Regions from separate parts of the Homo sapiens genome. Here region 1 is linked to region 2. The links come from fine-mapping of genetic effects on gene expression. A gene starts in region 2. The other region holds a variant in brackets. All regions are shown on one strand. Distances are from middle to middle. Region 1 overlaps LINC01983 (long intergenic non-protein coding RNA 1983). Region 2 holds the start of LINC01983 (long intergenic non-protein coding RNA 1983).

Region 1 (2,907 bases), 25 kb before region 2:
CAGGTGTGAGCCACCTCACCCGGCTGAATCTGGGACTTTTTCTAAGAAAGCAGAAGCCATTGCGACCAAAACCATTCAGCAGACAGGATTTGAACCCAGCTCGGTCTGATTCCAAAACCAGAAGGACACCATGTCTTCCTTAAAGGAAGAAGGCACATCAGACCATCTGTCAAGTGGGTCCACTGAGGGTCAGAGGAAGAGCCTCCAGATGAGGGAACGGTGTCAGCAAAGCCAGAGCCCACATGGGACGAGGCGGCCCCAGAGCCGATGGCCTGAGCAGAGCCAGTCGTGTGTGTTATGGGTTTTCGCCTTAGCAGAGGCCTCACAGGCTCCCTCCCCACGTGTGTCTGCATCCGAATCTCATTTTCGCTTTGCAATACCACTGTGAGAAGAGCCTGCTGGGAGGTTCTTCCCCTTTCCCAGATGGATACACTGAGGCTCATGCAGGTGACACCATTTACCCGATGACCTATGTAAAGTCAGAAAATGTGCCGGGGGTGCTGGGGCCCCGGGAGGAGGTTGAGCTGGACTCGCCACTGGGCAGCCAAGGAGGCTGGGTGGTCCTGGCACACACAGAGGTCATGGGGCAGCATGGCCCCTGCTGTCGTCGACCACTTGGAGACTGGAGGACTTGGCCTTTGGATTTGGATAGAGGAGCCCTCTGTCATGGGTGCTGTTCAGTTCGGGGAGGTCACGGAGGTCCCCAAATGGGGATGGTCTCACTGCCGTGCCGCCTTTGCTGGCTCCTCCCCACCCTGCGACTCAGTTTCCTCGTCTGTGAAATGAGGTTGAGCTAGTTGGTCACTACCCAGTTCAGCTCTGACACTGTCGGACTCTGAGTCTGCCTGGGTGGGTCTCTGATTCCGCATGGGTGGGTCTCTGATTCCGCATGGGTGGGTCTCTGATTCCAGAGGATGCTGGCACAATGAGAGTTTTGGGGCTGGGACCGAGGTGATCGGGTGCCAAGAGGAACAAGGAAGTAAGGGGATGTTTCAAATACAGTTTCATTCCGGGTTGCTCTGAGAACTGAGTGGGGAACAGGCCCTGACGGCATCCAGGGACAGGGCCAGGACGTGTGGGGGTTAGGGGGGTGCAGGGAGTGGCAGGCCTGTCCCAGCTCCGTC[T/C]ACTAGCAGAAGAATGGGCAGCCGTGAGCTCAGGTGCGCCAGGCAGGGGAAATGGAATCGGCCGTCATGGATGTCCTGGCAGAAGTGGAGGCCGAGGAGGTCCTCTAGAAAGGGGTCTCACCCTTCTCCACAGGCCCACAAGGAGCCTCTTTCTCCTTTCACACCCAGGACGGGCCAGCAGGACCAGAGCAGTGGCCATTGAAAGTAACGTCCAAACAGGAAGATAAGGCCCAGGAGGCTCTGAGTCCCGGGTTCCCAGAGCTTTCCTGCCGCCACCCAGAAGCCCAGCAGGGCCCTCACTGGCAGCTGGCCCTTCCTCCCCAAGAGCCAGAGCTCAGACGGAGGCTCTCCCAGGGATGGCCTCCACCAGGGCTGCAGCAGAGCCTCGGCCATCTCTCAGCCCTCCCGGACAGGGAACCCCCTCCTCCCGGTTGGTTCTCCTGGGGTGAGCTTGCATGGCAGCCTGCTTCCTCCCACCTCCTGTTCCCTACACCGTCCCCACCACCGCCCTCCCGCATCAGGCCCCTGTCCTGCCTGCCCGTGCCTGATCGCCTGTACCCCGATCCATCGCTCTTCTTCTCCTCACTTCTCTCCTCCCTCGTGCACCTCTGGCCCCTGCCCATTGCTGAGATGGTTGACCCCTTTGGCCCTCAGCAAATTTAACATTCAGGAAAGGTCCACATTTCATAAATCCCTGTAATTCTAGGGTTGGGAGATGCTCCATCGAAGGTCACTTTGGCCCATCCCGGCAGCCCAGGATTGAGGTCTCCACCTTGCCCCAGACACAGCCAGCCCCTCAGAAACCAATGCCTACCAGCCAGACCCACGGGAGGACAACCGATGTACAAACCAGAAGGCCGGTGTATTAATTTAAAATGGAAAGCAGAACTCCCAAGCTGGCTGAATGCTTCATTTGCAGGTTGATTTATTCTCCCCTGTGTGGGTCTGTCAGTCTTCCATGGAGGCTGATGGAGGCTGTCCCTTTGCAAGGATTGTGTCTGGTGACGGGGCTGCCCCTTCACAGCTTCTGGATAGCTGAAGACTCAAATTGGAAAGCTTGACGAGCCTAGAAACAGGATTAGGGGAGAGGAGGGTGTGAGACTGCATTTCCCAAAACAGAGCATTCTTGCATGAACAGCTTTCCAAAAAAAGAAAAAAAAAAAAGACACCGTGGATAATGAAGCTTGCAGAAGGCTGCGCTCACCCGCTTCTGGAAATTCGCACTGTGCATCGGCCTCATCAAAGCTCTGAAACAAACACCACCTTACAGGAAGTTTTCCAAACTGACCTGACCACGAAGTGTTTTCCCTCACCCTCCCTAATACTGTCCGACGGGCAAGGCCAGGCTACTGCCAGGAATGATTTCCCAGGCCTCTCTGAGGTGGGGAGGTGGGGAGCTGGGTCCCCGTGTCCAAGGCCCCTGCCCTCCCACCAGGCTTTTTCCTGGGAGCAGCCTCCCAGGATGCCCCCTTCTTGTTCTCCTTTGACCGGCTTTTCAGGTACATCCTTTCTCGATCCATGTCACTGATGCTGCCTAGGCACTGAGGGCCTGCTCCACCCTGATGTCAGCCGGGGAGGCCTTTCTGTGCAACAGAAATACCACACCAGCAACACAGGGACAAAAGGAACAGGTTACAGGGATTAAACACAAAAACATAAACTGTGGGTGCCCTGAACTAATAAAGGAGCAGATGTCCTCAAGGGATTTAGACACAGAGGCATGGACCTGGGCTGAGTTTTGGGGTGAGGTGTGGGGAAACCAGAATTGCTCCAGTTTATAGAG
Region 2 (2,907 bases):
TTCTGAATGGTCCAAGTCAACAAAGAGCATGTATAACAATCATAAAAACATTTTTTTTTAATACAGTGGAACTGAGGCTTCCCAAATGGAGTGACGTGATGCGAGGACTTCTGCTGGAGAGTGACTGCCCGCTCTCCCAGCCCTCAGCTTCCCTCCAGCTAGCCCAGAGCCGCAGGTTTCTGGCCCAGGTGCAGGCGTGGTGTTTTTCAGAGCCCTCCACCCGTCTCCTTTCCTGACCTTAGATACTGGCTGGTCCCCGTTTGGCTCCAGATGGCGGGCGACCCAGTTCCTTCCCCTCCCAGCTTCCCTGGGCTGACTCCCTTTAAGCACCCATGGGCTTGAGCCAGCAGATTTGGAATTAATTGATTTATTGGGCAATGAATACACAATCTCATCCCTCCCACTCTGAAATTTAGCCAGAGGGCCTGCAATGCCACATTTTGCCAACAGGTGGTGCTGCCTAACACGAAAGCTCTCTGGCCCCGGGTCCTCAAGATGGACTTCGGGGATCATTAAAATAGCAGTCATTGGTGAGGGGCATCCTGACAGGGCACGGGGGACACAGTTACCGCCTAACACCACCACCACCACTACGCAACAACAGCCATTTCAGTACCAAGAACTCAGGAAGACACATCCAAATAAAGACCGTCCTTGAAACGGAATCTCTTTCATTTTAAGAAAAGCTCGGTCCTGCAGTTCTTATCATTTCACCTCAGGTGGCTGAAAACTTAACTCTAGACCGGCAGCGGCCCTGGACTGGCCTTCAAGAACCCTTGCTCTCGACAAAGACTCCAGCAGTTGGAGGTTCCTCCAACCTCCAAATGCAGTTTCTGTACAAATGAACTTGCTTCCAATTAAGGAAACCTTTTGTCCGCAGGGAGAGACGCACTAGGCCTTTCCTCCTTTTGTGGCTGCAGTGGAGCCGCCAGCCGCTTTCAAGCAGCCCCATCCTGAGCACCCAGATGCAACCCCACTACCCCTCTGGCTATTCCTGATGTCTTCCTTTGTCTACAAAGTCAAAAGAACTCAGCATTCCACACCAGCAGCCTCATGATCCAGGCCTGCCTCACGCGCCAGGATCACGAGAGCCGCCTCTAACCCACCCCCAAAACAACAAAAGGATGCGCTCTGGCCTTGCCAACTTCAGTGCCTGGGACAAGCCGGCTCGTGCCCGCCGCCTCGGCTGCAGGGCCCTCCACCTGCAGCGCTTTCGTCCCTACCTGGCGTTCACCGTTCTCACCCATCACATCAGCACAACGTGACCTTGTGGGGAGCCACCTCCTCTGCTCCCAAGACACCTGGTGCGTAACGATTACAGAGCACCCGTCCTGCCGTGATGCTGTCACAGTCCCCCAAAGGCTGTGGACCCATCTGGGGCACGGACTGTTTCTACTTGGCTTGTGTTTCCTCATCAGGGCTCCACACACAAAAAGCACCCGACACCTCCCCACTGAGTTGATTCTCCCTGTTGTTGATTCTGCCTGTTGTTGATTCTGCCTGTTGTTGATTCTCCCTGTTGTCGATTCTCCCTGTTGTTGATTCTCCGTTGTTGATTCTCCCTGTTGTTGATTCTGCCTGTTGTTGATTCTGCCTGTTGGCAAACACACCTGGGTCAGCGTTTCAACTTCCCAACTTAAGATCTTTTCAGTAAACCCAGGAGATGCTGGAAAAGCTGGCAGGCCGATTAGAAGCAAGAAAAACATAGCAGGAAACCCAGGGTTTAGGGAACTGTGTGTCTGGCAGGAAAAGTACACTGGGTTCCCTGCTCCCCTGAGAAACCTCGAGCTGCTTTGACATCCTCTGCCCCCTGCAAAAATCTTTCTGGATGTGTTGGCTCTGAAACAGATTTTTAAATGCTTGTAAAGCATACACACATCTGGATTGCTTACAAAAAATTGATGTGTTTTTTAAAATGAAGTAAAAACACCTATGATCTATAAATAGGATAATTGTGAGCAAAAGAATAAACTTTCTGAAACAGAAGGAAAATGAGAAAAGTAAAACACAATTCTATGCGCAGAGTGTGGTCAGTGTATAATGTGAGCTATTGATTAATAGAAACAGGCAGGAACACGGGGAAATAACATTTATAATAACTACTGTTTGGTGGGAACTGACTGTGGCCCATACTCTAAGCAAAATGTTTCACCTTCACAACCTCAGTCAGTCCTCACAACCCTTCTATAAGGCAGGAATTACTCCATCAGTTTACAGACTCAGAAAGGTGAAATAACATTTCTAAGACGAAACAGAGCTAGGAATGAAATCCAGGTCTAACAGCAATGCTCAACACTCACTTAATATGAACTTGTTCTGGCTGGATGCGGTGGCTCACGCCTGTAATCCCAGCACTTTGGGAGGCCGAGGCGGGCGGATCATGAGGTCAGGAGTTCAAGACCAGGCTGACCAGTATGGTGAAACCCCATCTCTACTAAAAATCCAAAAATTAAAAATCCAAAAATTAGTCGGGTGTGGTGGTGTGCGCCTGTGGTCCCAGCTACTCAGGTGGCGGAGGCAGGAGAATCACTTGAACCCAGGAGGCAGAGGTTGCAGTGAGCCGAGATTGCACCACTGCACTCTAGCCTGGGCAACAGAGCAAGATGCCGTCTCAAAAAAAAAAAAAAAAAAAAAAACTTGTTCCCTTTTGTGATATATTTGACTAGGTATTTTAAATCACAGTTAAAATAATAGAATTCCTGCCTTTGCAAACGGCATATGCAAAGCTCCCAGGCCTCAGAACTTCTGAGCCTCGGGGCCTACCCACGAAGGCCAGCCTACAGCCAGACACACACGTGGCCCAGACTCACCCTGAATGGCCTCTGTTTTGTTTTCAATAAACCCGAGTCATTAAGCTTACTTTCTTATGATTTACCTCTTTTCCTAAAGTTCACATGATCATATGTG

The links.
Region 1: its variant is fine-mapped to the expression of LINC01983 in esophagus mucosa (GTEx, PIP above 0.99). The same link has a PIP of 0.9 or more in nasal epithelium.

What each region holds. Positions count from the first base shown.
Region 1 is chr3:195,834,426-195,837,332 of GRCh38, forward strand. LINC01983 (long intergenic non-protein coding RNA 1983) reads right to left here. Exons shown (of 2, transcript NR_134939.1): 2 at 2,030-2,190. Among named protein-coding and RNA genes, the nearest start is that of MUC4, 24 kb to the left of the region's middle. The variant T/C (reference allele first, on the strand shown) is at 1,125.
Region 2 is chr3:195,859,050-195,861,956 of GRCh38, forward strand. It overlaps LINC01983 (long intergenic non-protein coding RNA 1983), which reads right to left and starts at 1,355. Exons shown (of 2, transcript NR_134939.1): 1 at 1,224-1,355. RefSeq lists enhancers at 742-1,266, 1,267-1,789.